Linked DNA regions of Homo sapiens. The protein of the gene in region 2 purifies or fractionates together with the protein of the main gene of each other region. This does not show direct contact. Each region holds a gene or a part of one and is shown on either strand. Other genes may lie near its edges.

Region 1 (7,027 bases), on a different chromosome or scaffold from region 2:
ATAAGATGCCCAGACCTGCTGTAAAATAATTTTAAAGCTCCACAGGTTTAGACTTCACTGTGCTAGAAACTCCTCTCTCACAAGATGTTTGGTGACTTACAAATCTTAAGGGAGAAATTCAACTGACAGTTCGAATTACAAATAAGAAACAGAATTATTATCAATCCCAAAACTTTTTCAAAAGACACATATCTCAGAGTCAGGTTTTCTTCTTGAAAGAGCAATGAGTCAGCAAGCATTTAGAGAGGGCACCTACTAAGTCTCAGCATAAGACATACTCCTTGCCCTCAAAGGAGCACACAAAAACACAAACTCAATGCATGCGAAATAACAGGAAACTACTATTTAACTATTCAAAATTGTGTGGTATAGAACAAGTCCAGATGGGAAACATGCTCCATCTTTTGTGCCAACTTGATCAAGTGGCATGGCTGACTGCAGCTGTGTTGAGGATTGTGAGGCCAGGGCAAAAGCACATTGAGGAATGATTAGAGATGCCAACCACAGGGCAAGAGTGGACTGTGGATCTGCAAACCTGTTCTAACATACACAGAAGCTGAGGGACAATTTTGGTGATGGCTTACCGCCCATTAGGATTGTGCTGAATAGTCTGAGGGTATATTTCACAACTGCCCATATCCTTTACTGCCAGTGGCAATCTTTCACCATCTTTAATTTCAGCATCTCCCATTGCTTTTAGGTTGGCCTGCTGGACTTCTGAATGCTTGGCCCAAATTATCTTTCCATTGGCATCCATGGACATGGCAGGTTCCTCCCGACCAAGCTGAAAGAAAGAAAAATAGCTCTCAGCAATGAAAAGGAAAATGAATAAAACCAAAACAAAACAGATTATTTTTTTCACCTAACAGAGAGCTCCATTTCCTTTCTTCCACTTTAAATCTTCATTGCTTAATGTCTAGTGCTTAATGAAAGAAGTGCCAGTTTTATAAAACTGGTTACTTGGAAGATGACAGTACTAAAATACAAAGAAAATGGTTTTGCCTATGTCCACCTACTGAGAGGGATAGTATAATTACCTTAACAATGATGCTCCCTTCATCATAGCCCAAAGCGACATTGTTTGACCCTCTTAGACTGGCCACGCACCATACCCTCTCCATTCCATAATTCAGTGTGCTCTCAAGCCGGTAGGTGCTTGAATGCCAAATACGTACTGTTCCTAAAAAGAACAATGTAAATACTCCCTTTTGATACAAACATCCGACAATAAACTGTGTCAGGTGAAAGAGACCCATAGAAGTCTTTCTATTCAAACAGATAACACTTCCTGGCAGCTTAATGACCAATTTTTTGACCTACTGTCTTTAAATGATTTTTAAAAGCAACATAAACATAACACATAACATATAAGAAACAAAAACTAAGAATTACGATTTTAAACATGAAATAATAACAGGATTTCCTGGGTAAAGTGTTTCCTATGTGCCAGATGCTTTCTACCCACAATTTCTTCTCACTATAATTTTATGAAGCAGATATATATGTTTCCATTTCATAATTTGCCCAAACACACATTCATGACATAACAGAGCCTGATTTTGAACCCAGGTTTGTTTGACTCCAAAGCACATGCTTTTTCAGTTTCTCTTTAGGACAGCTGACGGTCCTCTTATTTAAGTGACAGAATCAAAATACATGAGAATGATGACGATGATGATGATGATGATGATGATGATGATGAAAATAATGCCCCTTTACTCTTTTATAGCTTAAGTCTGGTACTTTAATAAAAATATCAAAATCCTTGGAAACCTACAATTATAATGCAGAGACATTACTTGCTTTAAATGCCCACTGAGTAGTTACTAGCACAGGAATAAACATACCCTTCTAACTTACCATCTTCTGAACCTGTGATAATGATTGGCAACTCAGGATGAAAGCTGGCACAAGACACATTTTGGGCATGTCCTTCCAGTGTCTGCACACATGTTTTATTCTGTAATTAAGACATAGAAAACATGTTTTATTAATGAAAAACATGTAACCAGCCCGCCCTTAATTTTCTCAGTGTACAGATACATTATAAATGATAGTAGTCATGAAAATCTAAATAATATCCAATATAGAAATTTTTGAAATAGGATGATCTTGTTGTATATATGAATATTTTATCTAATTACTTTGTAAAATAAATGTAAATGTAACTATCACATTTAAAGAAGGGGAAAAAAACCCAAGAAGGCTTTTGTCTGAATATTATTCCCCCAAATTCTCAGGATAATAGATTTCCCCCTTAAAACTCACACCTACCATCACTGGCTAAGTAGACAGTGCTGCTTTAGCCTTTAATATTTTTATTCTGGATTTAAGTACAAATCTGAAAATGTTTCAAGGAAAAACTGACTTTCTAGACCTCATTTTATTAATTGCTTATGGGAACTTTTGATGTGGAAAACAAAAATATCAAAATATAAGAAAATCTTAGAGATAGGAAGCATGTTAACAAGAATTCATAACTAGGTTTACAAGAGTACGATTTGGCAAAATGGTTGGTAATTGTTGATCTGCTAGCTTACAAAAATGAATAGAAGTCTATCAATGAAGATTATGGAGGATAATTCAACATTAAAATGTTAAAATTTCTAAATGCAATTATGAAATGAAATATGAACATGTTGGTATTTTATTTTTAAAATCTTGATATGCATTGTTTTCATTTTTATGGAGAATTCTGGGAACACAGTTTAGGTGCAAATACTGATACCTTAAGTTATTATGCTGTGAACAGTTTTCAACAACCCAAGTCTTAACTGTCCTATAAGAAATAGTAAGAAACATATCTAACATATGGAAGTAAGGTTATGAAAAACTGTACCTGATAATCCCATATTTTAACAAGACGGTCATCTGCACCTGAAATGAGGTATGGCTTGTCCCCACCACTGTAGTAATCAATGCAATTCACGCCTTTCTCATGTCCTTCCAAAGTGAAGTTTGGTGACGAAGAGCCCAACTGCCACACCTGCAGAGAGAAACAGCATCGGCCAGTCAATATGGGGCCTTGCTTTACAAAAGGCAAATCCACCATATTTCTGACACATTATGTAAAATGCCAAAGCCCAGGAGAGAAGAGCTATCAAATTTTATTTTTTATCCTGTTTGGTTTTTGTTCTTTCTCATTTTACTTGAATTTTCAGGGAGCAAAATCACTATGGCGTTCTTTAAAAGAAGTGCCAATTTCCAGGCTTTATCTCTAGAGATTATAAGTCAGTCAATCCACAGTGACGCCCAGGAATCTAGATGTTATGAAATTATTTTATTATAGATTTAATATACAGCTCATGAAAGTAGATTTAGTAAGATATATTAAAAGTTGCTGGGTGTGGTGGCTCACACCTGTAATCCCAGCACTTTAGGAGGCCGAGATGGAAGTTATCACTTGAGCCCAAGAGCTCAAGACCAACCTGGACAACACAGCAAGACCTTGTCTCTACAAAAAAGTAAAAAGTAAAAAATTAGCTGGGCATGAAGGCACACGCATGTAGTCCTAACAACTCAGGAGGCTGAGGCAGGAGGATCGCTTTAGCCCAGAAGTTTGAGGTTACAGTGAGCTGTGATCATGCCACTGCACTCCAGCCTAGGCAACACAGACCGTAACTCAAAAATACATAAATAAATAAATAAAAATAAAGGCCTATTAAAAGGAGAAAATTACTGCCTAATTACCAATTTAAAGTGTAGAAAATTGTTAAAAATTACCACAGCACAGAATTAAGCTTTATCTTTACAAATATTTATTGAGTGCCTATTATATGGGAGGCCCTGTGGGGAGTATAAACGTGTAACAAATGTTTATCAATTACTGTATAAAATAAACTTTATTGGAACTGAAGATAAGACAATTATTGTTCTCAAGATAAACCTAAATTAGTAAAAATAAAAGTTTACAACTAATTTCAAAGTTAATCTATGTCAAAAGCAAGGATAATCCAATCAAAGGCAAAATAGCTAAGGTTAAAACCCTAAGATATTCAGACACATAACATTTTACATAAAGGAAAACTACTAACAGTGTTTTATATAGGTGAAAGCAAACATGTAAGCAAAAGTTAATTTATTTTAAGTCAATGCATATGGAAATATTTTAATTAATTAATTAATTTATTTATTTATTTGAGATGGAGTCTCGCTCTGTCCCCCAAGTTGGAGCGCAGTGGCGCAATCTCGGCTCACTGCAAGCTCTGCCTCCCAGGTTCATGCCATTCTCCTGCCTCAGCCTCCCGAGTAGATGGGGCTACAGGCGCCTGCCACCACACCCAGCTAATTTTTTGTATTTTTAGTAGAGACGGGGTTTCACCGTGTTAGCCAGGATGGTCTCGATCTCCTGACCTTGTGATCCACCTGCCTCGGTCTCCCAAAGTGCTGGGATTACAGGCGTGAGCCACCGTGCCTGGCATGGAAATATTTTAAATATTATGATAAAAAAAAGAAGCATGATTGCCCTCACTGCAACATGTATTAAGCATCTAGGTCAGGTAAGGCACTTTGCTGTTTGCTATTGAATGGCTGGGGAAAGGGAGTGACACAGTTTCTATCCCCCAAATCCAGTATTTCAGGGGATAAAGATTTCCAAAAACGTGTAATAATAATTCAATCTGAGAAAGGCTGAAACAGAGGCAAAAAGCAATGGAAGAAATGGGATAAGCATAACTGGCTCTGTCTAGAGGTGAAGTTGATGTCTGACAAGAGGTTCTCAAGAGTAAATATTTGTGCTAAACCTTAAAAGCTGAGTAATTCTCCGGAGGAAAATATATCAAAATAGGAAAATAAAGAGAAGTGCAGGAAGATGGAACAGTTCAATGAAGTAAGGTTTTGTGAACATTCATAGCCTCTCTAGAGGATGGTGAGTAGACCAGGGTTTTAGGAGATGTCGCATAATATTAGCCCAGGCTAGTCCTGGAAATCCTTGTATTCCACACTAAGGCATTTGGACTTTATCCTTAGATCAGGAACTGTTTCAGAAAGATAACAGACAGCAGTGTGGTAAAATGGAGTAAGAAAGAGAGAATAGAGGCATATGGAATTTAAATGTAAAATAGATAAACGATGAGCAGAAGTCAACAATGAATACTAAAAGGAGAGGACAGTAGTATCCTAAAAAGATATTGGCATTTTTCTTATTCTGGGTTTCCAAAGGCTAAAAAATTTTTATAACATGCTGCCTCCACACAGAAAAACGCTCCTCATTAAGAGCACTGAGTTGCCACAATATTTTTCTAAACAGAACATGTCGTTTGGATTAAAATGAGAAATCCTATTTTGACTTCAAAACAGGCTTTTGAGGAAAATTTTTAAGATGGGTACATTTCTGACCAGTCAACAGTAAAACACCTAAGGCAAGTATAGTTCACTAATAATGATAACTGACACAAAATGTGGATGCCCTACCTTGATAGTCCTGTCCAAAGAGGCACTGGCAAACTGATTGTTATCTTTGGGGTTGATCACAATCTGCATAACATAATGGGTGTGTCCTTCAAACACTTGTGAGCAAGACCATTTTTTATCCCAGTCCCAGAGCTTAATAAGCATGTCATCTAGGCCAAAAGAAAGTCTCAAGTTAGTTGTAATTCTATTTTTTCACTTCATAACTAAGACACAGTCTTTAGAAGAAGCAAACCTAACACAAACCATATAATCCATGACTTACAGAAATAGAATCAAAACCAAATAGAGTTTTCAAAATGCTTATTTATCTTAAAAATAAATTTAACTCTCTACAGAAAAGTGGAGATAAAATAAATAAAATAGATTAGAAATAGAAAATATAAAAATTCTGTGAAAAAACTTAAAAATTCAGTGGGCATTAAAGAATGGCCAAAGAGTAATATAAGTTTGACTAGATCTAAGCATGACTGAATAGTGATAGCAATGACTATGTAGAGAACAAGCATTTGCCCTCACAAGATTGGTTTTTAAAAAGTTTTTAATTACTTCTCAATTTTTAATTTAAAAACATTTCAAAGAGCTATTACTAATTCAGTGCTACCTCTTTTTCCAGTCCTCCAAGAGGTCTACTATTTATACACAATACCAAGGAGCAAACTAGTTTGAATATAAAGATTGAACTGAATAGGGTCTATGGCAATCTGCCAAAAACTCACTCATCAACATGTAAATGACCTTTCTGTTCAGCAGATGTTTAAACATCTAGACTTGTAGGTCTTCTCTGACAGGAACTGGAGCAATCATTACACAAATCCTAAGTACAGTTGATATTTCATTATAGTACAAACACAAGCAGCATCAATAGCACAGTAATGGATCTAAATAGTTTAAAGGCCGCTTGGAATTAGAATTATATTTGTAACAGCAGTTAAAGCATAGCATGTCTCAGTGAATGAAAATGAATTACCCAAAGAGACGCACATGACCAAAAAAGGTCATCTCTTACCACTGCTAGTTAGAATGAAAGGCTGGGTTGGATGAACAGCAATACAGCGAATGTAGTCTGAGTGTGCTTCAAACATATGAACTCTCTCCAGAGTATTGTAATTGAACACTCTAATCTGCATGTCATCCTAGAAACAGAAATTTTAAAACCATCATCCCTGTTATCAAGTAAATTATACAAAAAAACTATATCACAGGCTCAAGGAATAAAGTCTATGCCTCAAAACATTGCTGTAAATAACAAAACAAATCGGGAATCAAAATCCTGCAACAAATTTACACAATCATTGACCAATTCAGAAAATGGGAATAGAGATTCATATTAATTACTTACCGCTCCTGTCACAACCCAATTCTTCCTTGCAACAAACTTTGCAGCTCGAACAGGAAGATCACATACTTCAAATGTCTTCACCAGTGTCTTTAAAATGTAACAAGAATACACAAATTGAGCTATAAGAAAATAACCACAAAATCTACTCTGTTATATTTCAAACATCCAATTTTTAAGATCACTTCTCATTTTAGTATATTCTCAGGCTAAAATATAAAAGCTCAACATTCAAATTTTTAAAAAAGACCAACTATCTTTTAATAGATTCGAAATTAA
Region 2 (7,027 bases):
TAGTTTTAGTAACCCTTCCTTCCACCGCTATTGCCAAAAATGCTATATAGTACATGCATTAGAATGTGTTAAAGCAGATCGGGCATGGTGGCTCACGCCTGTAATCCCAGCGCTTTGGGAAGCTGAGGTGGGCAGATCGCCTGAGGTCAGGAGTTCAAGACCAGCCTGGCCAACATGGTGAAACCACTTCTCTACTAAAAATAGAAAAATTAGCCTGGCATGGTGGTGGACACCTGTGATCCCAACTACTTGAGAGGCTGAGGCAGCAGGATCACTTGAATCCGGTAGGCGGAGGTTGCAGTGAGCCAAGATTGCACCTCTGCACTCCAGCCTGAGCAACAGAGAGAGACTCCATCTCAGAAAAAAAACAAAAAACAAAACAAAACAAAACAAAAAAAAACAAAAGAGTGAGTTAAAGCATGTGAAAATAAACTTGGCACATTTCTAAGAATTTTATCACCTGTCCAGAAAGCTCCAGATATAATTGGTCACTATAGGTACAAAAAACAGCAGGACAACTTAAGATTATAACCTGAAAATGGAATTTTTAATGGAGAAAAATCTGTGTCGACTTATACACATAGTGGCCACATACCTACGGGATACAGTCCCCTATTAAAGCGCTGGCCTGTAAATGCTGCTGCACCACAGATTAAAAATGAGTCACAGGACCCTGAATCCTTGGACCCAACTCTCTCCTTCTCTGGTTCTTGACCCAGTGAAGGAGCTGATGATGCTATCATCCTCTGCCCTGCAAGTGTGAGATTTTAATTGCAGCACCCAGGACTTTGTTCCCACTCACTAAGCACCTTACTCAAACAAGTCAGAGAAGAAACACAATGTATTTTTTCTCACCTGTCCAGAACAAGATCTGGAGCAAAGATGAGCTTGCCGGGGTGGTCAATTGAGCGCCACATCAGCCCCATCATTAACACCTCCATCCAACAGCTCTCCAAGAGCCGCACTTGGTCGAACAGGCTGAGCTCCACAAAGCCTGGGGAAAGCAAGAGGCGGTGAGACACCCCCACCCCTCCTCCTCAGCTCCCTGTGTGTGTAGAGACAGAATGGCAAGTGTTAAAACACTAAGAAAACACAAACCATTAGGGAGTTGATATTTTATAGATGTGATTAACTGCTCATTAAAGGAAGAAAACTTTGAAGTTAAGCTGCGCAACTTAGTTTCCAGTCTTGGACCCCTTCTAGAGACAAATATACTTCATTTAGAGTTTGTCAAGCACTACGACCTCGGCTCAGAACTGATCTTTGTTAGCTGTGTCCTGATAATTCCTCTGCACTACTGAGAATGTTGATGCTTGGCTGCCAGTCAGAAGACCTGCCTGTCTGACCCAATCCTTGACTGGGATCAGAAGGGGTGGGGGATGGGGTAGGTGGGGGATGGGGTAGGTGGAGGTTGGGGTTGGAGGCTTGCAGAGAGCAGTGCCAGCCCTCACAGAAAACCAAGGCCTCAACTGCAAGGATTTCTCTGATTGATTAAAATTTCCTATCCAGTGTTAAGATCCTTCTTCTGGGTAGAAGCACTGTTTCTGGGTGATTCTATCCTAAACAGCAAATATAGCCAAGCACACCTGTAATCCCAGCACTTTGGGAGGTCAAGGTGGGTGGATTGCCTGCACCCAGGAGTTTGAGACCAGCCTGGCCAACATGGAGAAACCCCATCTCTACAGAAAATTATCTGGTCATGGTGGCAGGTGCCTGTAGTCCCAGATACTCTGGAGGCTGAAGTGGGATGATCGCCTGAGCCCAGGAGGTCGAGGCTGTAGTGAGCTGAGATCACGCCACTGCACTCCAGCCTGGGCAACAGAGCGAGACCCTGTCTCAAAAATAAATAAATAAATAAATAAATAAAGAGCAAATATAATAACGAAGCAGGTCCTGACAACCTAATAACCCATGTTGGTCACAGTACTGTTTGCAAACAGGTAATCTCTGGGGAGGGAAGCACTTCAAAAGCAAAGCAGAGAACACCGGGGCTTCCTTCACAAGCCATGATAAAAAGAGAGGGCCATGTAATATAAATATGATAACAAAAGACACCGCCTTGGAGTGAAATGGACTCTGGTTCGAACCCCAGCTCAGCCTCTTTCTAGCTGTTCACTTAATCTCCCATTAAGTCTTTGTTTTTCTTATAGGAAAATGGGGGTAACAATGCCTATCTCTGAGAATGTCTTATAGGCAGGATCTCTTATCATTCTTGTTTTACAGATGAGGAAACTACAGCAGAGAGAACACACATGGTTCAAGTCTTTGAACAATTATAACGCAAATCTGCCTCAAGGAGAATGTAATGGTGTTATGAATGTAAAGATGGATAAATACTTTCTAAATCCACATGCTTTGCTCAGTTTAGGTTCCTAATGTGTATATACCTTCCCAGTCTCACCCATAGTGATTGACAATAAGCCTACCCAAGAGAGATCACGGTTCTTAATCTTGTAGATATTCAACAAGATCAAGGCTAGATGATATTTTAATATATATTTTTTGGTTTGGACAATGACTATGCCAGCTAAGAGAGGAGAAAAAAAATCACGCCTTCAGATTATGTCTACGTTTCCTGAAAACTTTTCAAAACACCAGGCTTGAATAAGGAATAATGCAGTTTAAGAGTTCAGATTTCTTATGGCACAAAGAAGGTGCACAGCTTTCAGCAATAATTAATTTCACCACTGCTCTCCATGTGTGGTCCTGCAAAATCGTGTTTGGAATACATTTAAAGCAAAAACTAGAGGAAAGTGCATCAGTATTGCCTCCCCTGGGAAAAAGCAGAGAAAATAAAATAATTCTGGCAAAGGTGAAGATGCTAGACAAAACAAAATACAACTAGAAACCAAAAATCCTCAGGAAGCTCAGAAGAAATGGGCCCAGGCCAACAAAAGTCCCCAAATGATACTGTCACCATAGGCCTCAGTTCCCCAGGCTCTTTACCCAAAACTTCTCTTCCCCCAGCTTCTCACCCCTCCTCATCTTTACAGCTTGCCCAGTGCAGTCGCTGCCCTCCAGGCCATGGGAATGCCCCCAGTGGCTCAGAACTTATAAGAGACTTCATTTCTTCAAGGACTGTAAAGAACAGCATGGAGAAGCTGTCACAGGGGGATCGTGGGGTGTTGCCACTCTAGGTTAGAATCCTAGATTCACTCCTCCACAGAAACACCAAGTCAAATGATAATTAGCTGGTAATTTTAGCATCATACAGCACTTCAGATATATATTACAAATGGGCTTGAGAGAAGTGATCACTTTGGAGGATGGAAAACGCAGGTTCCAAGTGACAACTCATGAGTAACTAAGCTCATTTTTAACTTGATGGCATTCCAGGTTTATGGGCCCATTGATGATTCGTGTAACTTCAACCACTGATTTACTCTGTTTGTCCATACATATTCATTTATGTACATAATATTGATTCTCTACTGGAACAATAATTTACAAAATTCTATTTAGCATCTGACAAACCTTTCACTTTCAAACTAGTCATACTGTACTCTACCCCACCCCTCCTTTCAAGGTGAGGAATCCACAGCCAAGAAATGGGTCAATGTGGAGTCTATCATTTTAACCACGTTCCAGGTTCCAGGACTCTAGGATTCTTGCCCAAATGACCCCAAGCCCAATTCCAGAGCCTAGGTAGGTTCCCTGGGTCCATCCTCCCAGACCACCTCTAGGCATGAGAGGTGGCCAACAGGTGAGTGTCTGTAGCAGATGTGGACACACAGGATAGGGTTTGTGCAAGGTGGTATGGGATGCATCTAGCCATGGGAAAAGAAGGCAGTCAAGAATAGAAATGGCTGGGCCACGCACAACTCTTTCTGCACTACCATGTTGGGTACAGAACTCAGAAGAGTCTCAGAATTCTAAATCAGAACACGGCCTTGTTGAAGGTAGGTATGCCAAGACAGAAGGAAGGAACATATTGCACTTAAAAGTTACAAATCCAGCTGAGGACCTGTTAAATATCTAGGCACAGCTCATGGACCTCTACTTTGTACTCTTGCCCCTTAAATATTAGCGGCCGGCCTTTCTACAAGTACATGGAAAACTGATAGCCAGAAAGCCCTACCGGGAATCTTCTTGGCCCAGCTGATCATGTGTACCAACTCCTTGTCGGCCAACTTGGTCAGGGACATCATCATGGAGGCCTCGGTGAAGGGCGCACTGGGGCGGCTGATCAGCACATGGGGCGGCTCAGCCTCCAGGAGGGTGAGCACTAGCTGCTCGGGGCTCAGGGCGTCCAGCAGCAGCTCCCGCACTCGGGGCGCGTGGCCGCCACTTCTCTTGGCCTTGCCGGCACAGTGCAGCTGCTCGTCGGCACTTCTCTGTCTCCGCACAAGGCGGTACCCACATCTCTCTCTCCGGGAGCCTGAAGAGGAAAGCAGAGTCATTCGAATTGCCAGGGTAAAACCGCAGTCAAGCAAAAGCAGCTTGACTTTTATTTTCTGGAGCCTGTGGGGCACGTACCAAAGATTACTATGGTCGTGACCGTACTAGCAAAACCAACGACATAACTTTTCAGAAACTTTTTAGGTCTCCATTTCCAGGTCATCTATAGATACTAACACCGTTTCTCTATAAAGAGTGCTCATAAACCTGTTTCCAAACCATGAAATTAGGAATTTTCTTCAGGTAGAAAAATGGGGATATTTCCAAAGGTATCAAATAATATACTTTTATTATAACACATTCTTAAAATGTTTATATGCATGTGTGCATATGTATATATTTCCTTATACTTACACAAAACAAGTATATTTCAAATAACAAATTAAGTGAAAAAATCTGAAAAATATAGAAGAGAATAAATTTTGGCATAAACTCTTTCAGTCTTTTTAATGCTTTTATTTTTCTTTTTTCTTTTTTTTTTTTTTTTGAGACGGAGCCTTGCTCTGTGGCCTAGACTGGAGTGCAGTGGTGTGATCTCGGCTCACTGCAAGCTCCGCCTACCGGGTTCACGCCATTCTCCTGCCTCAGCCTCCCGAGTAGCTAGGACTATGGGTGCCTGCCACCATATTTTTCCACGTTTTATACACAAAATTATTTATTTATTTTTGAGACGGAGTCTCACTCTGTCACCCAGGCTGCAGTTCAGTGGCACATTCTTGGCTCACTGCAACTTCAGCCTCCCGGGTTCAAGCGATTCTCCTGCCTTAGCCTCCCAAGTAGCTGGGATTACAGGAGCCCGCCACCATGCCTGGCTAATTTTTATATTTTTAGTAGAGATGTGATTTCACCATGTTGGCCAGGCTGCTCTCAAATTCCTGATTCTCAAGTGATCTGCCCATCTTGGCCTCCCAAAGTGCTGGGATTACAGGCGTGAGCCACTGCACCCAGCCTTTATACACAAAATTAGATTGTAGTATCTACACTATTTTAATTGTATTTTTGAGACAGAGTCCTGCTCTGTTGCCCAAGCTGGAGTGTAATGATGCAATCATAGCTCACTGCAGCCTTCATCTCCTGGACTCAAGCAATCCTCCTGCCTCAGCCTCCTGAGTAGCTGGGACTACAGGAATATGCCACCATGCCCAGCTAACTTTTAAATTTTTTTGTAGAACTAGGGTCTTACTATGTTACCCAGTCCTCAATAGTTTGACTGTTTTCTCAGAACCCATTGGGCATTAAAAATCATTTTTAATGTTTGCTAATCTAACTAAACCATCTCGCTTTACTTTGTATGTTTTAATTACTAGCAAAGTTGATTTATATGCTTGTTCTTTGGATTTACTTTTTTTTTTTTTTTTTTAAGAGACAAGGTCTCTGTCACCCAGGCTGAAGTATGGTGGTACAGTCATGATCACAGCTCACTGCAGCCTCAACCTCCCAGGCTCAAGAGATCCTCCCACCTCAGCCTCCTGGATAGCTGGGACTACAAGTGTGCACCACCACATCTGACTAATTTTTGTATTTTTTGTAAAGACAGGGTCTCACCATGTTGCCCAGGCTGGTCTCGAATTCCTGGGCTCAAGTGATCCTCCTGCCTTGGCCTCTGAAAGTGCTGGGATTACAGGCATAAGCCACCACATCCGGCCCAAGAATTAAGTTTTAGTGATATAGAAACAAGGTGGAACCAAAATAACAAACAATAACATGCAAAATCAGAGAGGAATGATTTTGGTTAGAATTTCTAAGATTCTTTTTTGGGAAGATAGAAGCTTAAATTCTCAAATTAATCAAGAACACGTTACAAAACATAAACGTCATTAAAGGAATTGAAACATGGCCAAACATGGTGGCTCACACTTGTAATCCCAGAACTTTAGGAGGCCAAAGGTGGTTTCGGCGGGTGGGGCGGGAGGGGACGGATCACTTGAGGCCAGGAGTTCAAGACCAACCTGGGCAGCATGGTGAAACCCCATCTCTACTAATAATACAAAAATTAGCTGGGCATGGTGGCAAATGCCTGTAATCCTAGCTGTTTAGGAAGGTGAGGCAGGAGAATCACTTGAACCTGGGAGGCAGAGGCTGCAGTGAGCCAAGATCACACCACTGCACTCCAGCCTGGGTGACACAGCGAGACTCTGTCTCAAAAGATAAAAGGGAATTGAAACAGAATGTATGACTTTTAAACTAGCAAAAGAAGAAAAAGAAAACATAAAAATGTGATCAACTCCTAAAAGGGAAGAAGTAGAAAATACATAATAAAATTTTTTAAATCAAAAAATAAGATGATAGAAATGAACCCAAATATCAGTTATCACAATAAACAAAAAATACCAAATTGACCATTTAAGAGTGACTCTGAAATTATACATATTTTTAAATCTAGACATAGATTAGGTGTAAGAGATATACCTAACATATAGAAAAACAAAGTAGACAGATAGAAAAATATTTAACAGGCAAAATTAACCAAATAAATTGACATTACTCTATTGATACCAGACAAATAAACTTTAAGGCAAAAATTATTATTATAGATAAGGAGACTCATCGCTAGAATATTTTAAAAAGATAAATAATTCTAAACTCATATACTTCAAAACAACAAAGGCCAGGTGCGCTGGCTCATGCC
Region 3 (7,027 bases), on a different chromosome or scaffold from region 2:
AAATTATGGTGGAATACAGTAGATATAGGTATGGAAAAAATACTGAACTTACCAAACAAACAGTAATTCAAGTTGGATCATTGCCTAAAATGTAAAATCTAAAACCATAAAGCATTTAGCCTAAAGCATGAGAAAACAAGTAGATAAAGGTTTCTTAGGGAACAGTAATAACTATGAAAGAAAAAAATTGATAAATTAGACTTCATAAAAATTTAAAACTTCTGCTTCTCAAATGATACCGTTAAGAAAATAAATAGGCAGCCAACAGACTGGGAGAAAATATGATCATGTTTAAACTCTTACCTTGAACTCATCTGAGATTTCAGACACAAAAGAAGATATCTGCTTCATGAGCCGGTCCACACTGCTCTCACTTCCTGTTTTGAGGAGTGTAGTAATGGCTAAGGTAGCAATGCTTCTGTTTGAGTCTGTGATTAAGTTTTCTAAGTCCAGATTGCAGGCAGTAACAGCAGAGGGGTGCTTCATTGCCACCTTGTGGAAGGGCAAGAAAAAAAATTAAGCAAATTGCTTTTGATAAAGGCCAGAACTTAAATTTTAATTGAGGTAAGTGGCAATCCAAAGAGGACAGGATAAGTTAAAAGTAATTGCTTCAAAAACAAAAAGAATGGCTCCAGTTAACAAGGTATATCTTTTAATAAATGATCAACGGCCAGAGTATAGCATCGTACTCTCTTTTGTTAGGTTCCTCTAACCTTTCTAACATTACCATTTTTAAAAAATTATAATTGGCCTGTATTTCCTTATAGTACGTGTGTTCATATACGTCTATTCTATTAGATGTTAGGAGTACTGACAACAGGATCTAGCATAGTAGTCAGTGCTCGACAAAGACTGTTAATATCTTATCAGTTAAAAAATACTGCTGCATTTCAAGACGCAAACTCCAGCCAAACTGCATTATCTATGGTTACTACATGGTCTGCCATTCTCCTGCATCCTTGTTTTTGTTGATGTTGTCCCACCTCTTTGTCTATCCCAATATTGGTATGGAATCCCTTACCCACAATTTGGAAAATCTGAAAACACTCTGGAAAGCAGAGCACTGGGATGAAAATCCATTTAACAGCAAAACATGACCCAAACTAATGCGAAACTCTTTAATTCTTAATTTATACCACTTGACAAGGATAGTCATATGTTTTGTGCAAAAATATTAATGTTTTTTAATGGTGGGATGCTGCCCCAGGCCCACTGGGGTTAGTAAATAAGAGATAACACCATATAACCTTTCTAAAATTTAACTAAAAGCAAATTCTGAGACACATCTGGCCCCAAGATTAGAGATGAGGGATTGTAGACCTGTATCAACTCTTTAAAAACAATTTAGGCCAGGCTTGGTGGCTCATACCTGCAATCCCAGCACTCTGGGAGGCCGAGGTGGGCAGATCACCTGAGGTCACGAGTTTGAGAGCAGCCTGGCCAACATGGCGAAACCCTGTCTCTACTAAAAATACAAAAATTAGCCGGACGTGGTGGCAGGTGCCTGTGATCCCTGCTATTTGGGAGGCTGAGGCATGAGAATCGCTTGAACCTGGGAGGCGGAGGTTGCAGTGTGCCAAGATCGTGCCACTGCACTCTAGCCTGGGAGACAAAGTGAGACTCTGTCTCCAAAAAAAATAAATAAATAAAAAACCATTTAAATTGTTGTTCTATAAAGGTTTCTTCCATGGCTGCTCTAAACTTCTCTTTTCTTCGACTGTTTACACAATTAATTTATAATTATGTATTGCCTATGACAAGTCTTCTATTACATTTAACTTTCATTTACATTTTCTATGCTTATTTAATTTATTCTGTGTTTCTGTATTATATCCTCTAAATCTATACTGTCTAATAACATAGCCAACAGCAACATGTGACTACCAGGCATTTGAAAGGTGGCTAATCCAAACTGAGTATGCTGTAAATGTAAATATACTGGATGTCAAAAACTTGAGATATGTAAAAATATCTATTACATGTTGAGATGACATATTATATGTATTATGATAAAATATACTATTAAAATTAATTTTACCTTAAAAATTTTAATGTGGTTATTATGAAATTTAATATTACATATGTGATTCACAGTGGGTTTCTACTGGACAGGGCTGCTGTAGACCAGCACTGTGCAAGAGAACTTTCTTCAATGACAGAAATGTTCAAGATCTGCACTGTCCAACAGCCACTGACCACATGTGGCTGTGAGTACAAGAAGTGTGACTCATGTGACTGAGGGTTGAATTTTTTATTTTAATTAATTTAAATTGAAATAGCCACTGGTGGCTAATGGCCACCATATTGGACAGTGTGGCTCTTGAATATAAAATGCTTAGAAGTCAGAAATGAGTTATAATCTTCAGCTAAATAATAATAAAAATGAGCATACTCAAGGCCACAAATACAAGTGAAGTGTTGTAGAGGTGAAGCCCATAAATCACATATACTAACCTTGGAGAGAAAACCAAATGCTTCACATTTAATGTTTCTCAATTAAATACTGATATAAGTCAATAATTAGCAAAGAAACACCTACCTTGTTCAAGGTCCTCACAGCTGCATATCTCAAGGCTGGCTTAGGAGAACTACAGAAAAGTTGAAGAACTAAAAAAAAATAATAATAATAATATGTAACATTAAGTAATATTACATATACATACCGTGAATACTCCTGGCTTAAGAGAACTATAGAAAAGTTGAAGAAGTAAAATACAGATATAGATACAGTGACTATTACCTATATATGCTGTGAATATTCCTTATCTCATCATATACCATATAGCTGAAAATATAGTACATAATGAATCACATTCAAAATATGCATACATTTTATCACAGCATCAAAAATTTACATGAAAAATGTAACATCAAAATAGAAAAAGCACTTTTGGGGCGCCTGTAGTCCCAGCTACTCGGGAGGCTGAGGCAGAAGCATGGCGTGAACCCAGGAGGCAGAGCTTGCAGTGAGCCGAGCTATCGTGCCACTGCACTCCTGCCTCAGTGACAGAGTGAGACTCCGTCTCAAAAAAAAAAAAAAAAAAGAAAAAAAAAAAAGAAAAAGCACTTTTGGTCAGTTATAAAAACTTAAATAAGAAACAAAGTTTGCTCTTTTTAAAAAAAAATTAGAATACCCATTAATACCTGAACTAAATGGTAGAAATATTGACAGTTCTGAAAACAAATGGGCTTTTTAAACACCAAGGAAAACTGTAAAATGTTTTCAAAAGTTTCATACGAGGAAACAGAAACTTTAAAAAAAAGCAATAAAGAACTATTATTAATAAACTATGTACATATAAATAAAATTCTTTCAAAAGTTTTATATGGAGAAATAGAAACATTAAAAAAAGTAATAAAGTAAGGAACAACTAAAATAAACTATCTACATATAAGCTATCAGAATGCAAAGGCTATATATACACAGAGCTAGTGTTCAGAAAACATTCTTAATACCTATTCTGTAGACCTATGAAACTTAAAGCAAAAACTTAGGAACATAAAAGCCAGCCATCAAATATAAAACAAACCTGAAACAGCAGGTGCCAACTCTCTTGCAGTGCAGTTAGGAAGATGGATGATAGCTGAAGCAGCTTCATAAATAACCATTTCATGTTTATTTCGCAAGCAGCTCTCAATGAAATCAAACAGTGGACTTTCATGGCTGCCAATAAATATTTATAGGCCATTATTTAGATATCAAATAGAGAGGCAATATGCATAGGGATTAAAAGCACAGGCAGATTGAGAGGCACTTCTGGAATGGTGGATGAGGGATTTCTAAAAATTCATTTCATCACAAAGCAATTAGAACACTGGCAAAATTGTCAAAATCAACTTTTGCAGAACTCTAAAAAATTAATCAAAGATTTGCAACAATCCTGAACATCTATTTAAGAAAAGTAGCTGAATCTTAGTAAAAATGGTGAAGTTTCTGGTGTTTTAACCTACTCATTCTCAATTTCCATGCACCTCTTCCCAGTTCCATAGCAGTCTTGGAAACCAGCAGCCTCAGAACCACAGTAACTGTGAATGCCAGCAGCCTAGCTACAAAAGCAGCTCTGGGCCAAAATCTCATCCCCAGAGAACTGTCACTATGTGACCTGTCTGGTGCTCCTAGAAAAGCCCTATTCACAGGCTAATCTTTACTTCACCTGACTCAAGAGCTCATTCAGCATGAAAAGCCCTATGCCCAGGGAGTTTGTCCAAAAAAATCAGTAGTATTTGGTTAATCTTGCAGCTGCCAGAAGCAGCAATTTTAGCAGGGGCAAACAAGAGGCTGGCCAAAAAACTTAAAAGGAAAATTTGAGAAATGAGATGTCCTTAGGGGGCTTTGAAAATTTCTAAAATATTTCTGGGGATACAGAAGGTCATGTGCATGTGCAGGGCTAAGCAAACAGCCACTAAAGACCTGACAGAGCTCCGCTCTCTAACCTTTGCTTGACTCTGAGGCTCTGCACAAAGCAGGAAGTGAAGGCTAAGGCAGAGCTGTGAACTCCCGGGGCATGGAAAGCACGCCCCAACATACACAGCACCCGTTGGAAAATGATGGGAGACATACTGGTTTAAAGCATTTAAGAAAATCTGTCAAATTATTATTTGTGACTCAGCTAATCAAACAAAGACTTCAGTGTCTATACAAGATACAGAATAAAGACTACAGAAATAGTCCAGGAAGGTCACAAACAACAACAAAAACAACAAACCCCAGGGATAGGGAAAGGGAAGGTCTGATTACCAGTGTTGTCACATTATAATATTTAAAATATAATGTTTCTGACAAAATAATTATGAGACACACAAAGAAATACTTAACTATGACCCATCTATGGGGGAAAAAAAGTAGTCAATAGAATTTATTCCTGAGGAAGCCCAGATGTTGAACTTACTGGCAAAAACTTTAAGTCAGCTAATATAAATATGTTCAAAGAACTAAAGGAAACTAAAATATTTAATTTAAAGGGAAGTACAACAAGATGTCTTATGAGACTACCAATAAAGTGACAGAAATGATTTTTTTTTTTAAGAAACCAAATAGAAATTCTAGATTTGCAAAGTGCAATGACTGGAATGAAAAATTCACCAGAAAAAGTTCAATAGCAGACTTGCACAGGCAGATGAAAGAATAAGAAAACTTGTAGATCTACTGAGATAAACCAGCTGATGAAAATAAAAAAAGAAGGAAGAAAAATGAACAGTGCTTTGGAGACCTGTGTAACATGACCAAGGGTACCAACATTTTGGATGATAGGAGTTTTCATAGGAAAAGAGAGACACAAAGGGGAAAAAGAACATAAGAAGAAACCATGGCTGAAAACCTCATAAGTTTGATTTAGAAAAAACATTAATTTATGTACCCAAGAGGCTCAAAAAGTCTCAAGCAGAATAAATACAAAAATATTCAAATATATACACATCAGAGTGAAACTGTTGAAAGCATAAAAATAGTCATTCTGACTGGTGTGAAATTGTATCTCATTGTGGTTTCGATTTGCATTTCTCTAATGATTAGTGATGTTGACCATTTTTTCATATGCTTGGTACCATCTTGTACCAGTCAGAATAGCTATTATTAAAAAGTCAAAAAGTAACAGATGCTGGTGAGGTTGCAGAGAAAAGGGAATGCTTACACACTGCTGTTGGGAATGCAAATTAGTTCAGCCACTGTGGAAAGCAGTTTGGAGATTTCTCAAAGACCTCAGAACTACCATTCAATCCAGCAATCCCATTACTAAATACGAACCCGAAGGAATATGAATTGTTCTTCTTAGGTTTTGATGAGAAGGCGAGGATTAAAGAAAGACTGAGAGAGAGTTGGCGGCTCTACAGCAATGCAGGTTTTATGTCCAGCATAAGACCTGCAGAGGCGGGGCACCAGCTTAATGCCAGGGCCCACCTCTGCTTACAGGCTGGGGCAATTTTAGGCCTGGGAGGGAGGGGTCTGAGGGTTATGGCTTGCTGCCCGGGAGGATGTTGATAAGATGTTCCCATGATGAGGTGGTTTGGCCCTTGTTCTGGCAGGATGTGACAGTGATGTTCCTTGGACTTTTTCCCAGCAGAATGTGATAAGAAAGTCAGGCAGTCGGGCAGGATGTTTCTCACGGCCCAGTCCCCCAAGGAATGTTTCACTTTGATCAAGGTCTATGAAATGACAAGGGGCTTACAAAATGGTACAGTTTGGACTAACAGTTCTACCATAAAGACACAGGCCCTCCTATGTTCACTGCACCACTACACACAATAGCAAAGACATGGAATCAACCTAGATACCCAACAACAGTGGACTGGATGAAGAAAACGTAGTACATATACACCATGGAATACTATGCAGCCATAAAAATGAATGAGATTATGTCCATTGCAGCAACATCGATAGAGCTGGAGGCCATTATCCTAAGCAAATTAACACAGGGACAGAAAACCAAATACTGCATGTTTTCACTTATAAGGGAAGCTAAACATTGAGTGCACATGGTCACAAAGAAGGGAACAATAGGCACTGGAGCCTACTTGAGGGTGTAGGGTGGGAGAGGATGAGGATAAAAAAACTACCAACTGGGTGGTACCAAGAAGTTTGAGATTATGCTAAATGACCAAACCTAAGAATAACTGGTGTTCCCAAGGAAGAAGATAAATCTAAAAGTTTGGAAAACTTATTTGAAGGAATAATCAAGGAAAACTTCCCCGGCCTTGCAAGAGACCTAGACATCCAAATACAAGAAGCTCAAAGAACAGCCAGAAAATTCATCACAAAAAGATCATCACCTATGCATTTAGTCATCAGATTATCTAAAGTCAAGATGAAGGAAAGAATCTTAAGAGCTGTGAGGCACAAGCATCAGGTAAGCTATAAAGGAAAACCTACCAGATTAACAGCAGATTTCTCAGCAGAAACCCTACAAACTAGAAGGGACTGGGGTCCTATCGATAGCCTCCTTAAAAAAAATAATTATCAGCCAAGAATTTTGTATCCAGTGAAACTAAGCTTCATAAATGAAGGAAAGATAAAGTTCTTTTCAGATAAACA

Evidence for each region.
Region 1: the proteins of ESR2 (region 2) and COPB2 purify together in Homo sapiens (affinity purification with mass spectrometry; 3 studies listed by BioGRID and IntAct, with this or other methods). This does not show direct contact.
Region 3: the proteins of ESR2 (region 2) and COPG2 purify together in Homo sapiens (affinity purification with mass spectrometry; 3 studies listed by BioGRID and IntAct, with this or other methods). This does not show direct contact.

Annotation. Positions count from the first base shown.
Region 1 is NC_000003.12:139,372,629-139,379,655, forward strand, and holds part of COPB2 (coatomer subunit beta'), read right to left. Parts: intron 6,839-7,027; coding exon 6,752-6,838; intron 6,546-6,751; coding exon 6,419-6,545; intron 5,562-6,418; coding exon 5,413-5,561; intron 2,987-5,412; coding exon 2,840-2,986; intron 1,961-2,839; coding exon 1,861-1,960; intron 1,181-1,860; coding exon 1,038-1,180; intron 785-1,037; coding exon 585-784; intron 1-584. UniProt on the Homo sapiens protein: The coatomer is a cytosolic protein complex that binds to dilysine motifs and reversibly associates with Golgi non-clathrin-coated vesicles, which further mediate biosynthetic protein transport from the ER, via the Golgi up to the trans Golgi network.
Region 2 is NC_000014.9:64,256,371-64,263,397, forward strand, and holds part of ESR2 (estrogen receptor beta), read right to left. Parts: intron 4,379-7,027; coding exon 4,079-4,378; intron 1,046-4,078; exon of another isoform or gene 995-1,045; coding exon 856-994; intron 1-855.
Region 3 is NC_000007.14:130,560,730-130,567,756, forward strand, and holds part of COPG2 (coatomer subunit gamma-2), read right to left. Parts: intron 3,665-7,027; coding exon 3,531-3,664; intron 2,608-3,530; coding exon 2,540-2,607; intron 493-2,539; coding exon 304-492; intron 1-303. UniProt on the Homo sapiens protein: The coatomer is a cytosolic protein complex that binds to dilysine motifs and reversibly associates with Golgi non-clathrin-coated vesicles, which further mediate biosynthetic protein transport from the ER, via the Golgi up to the trans Golgi network.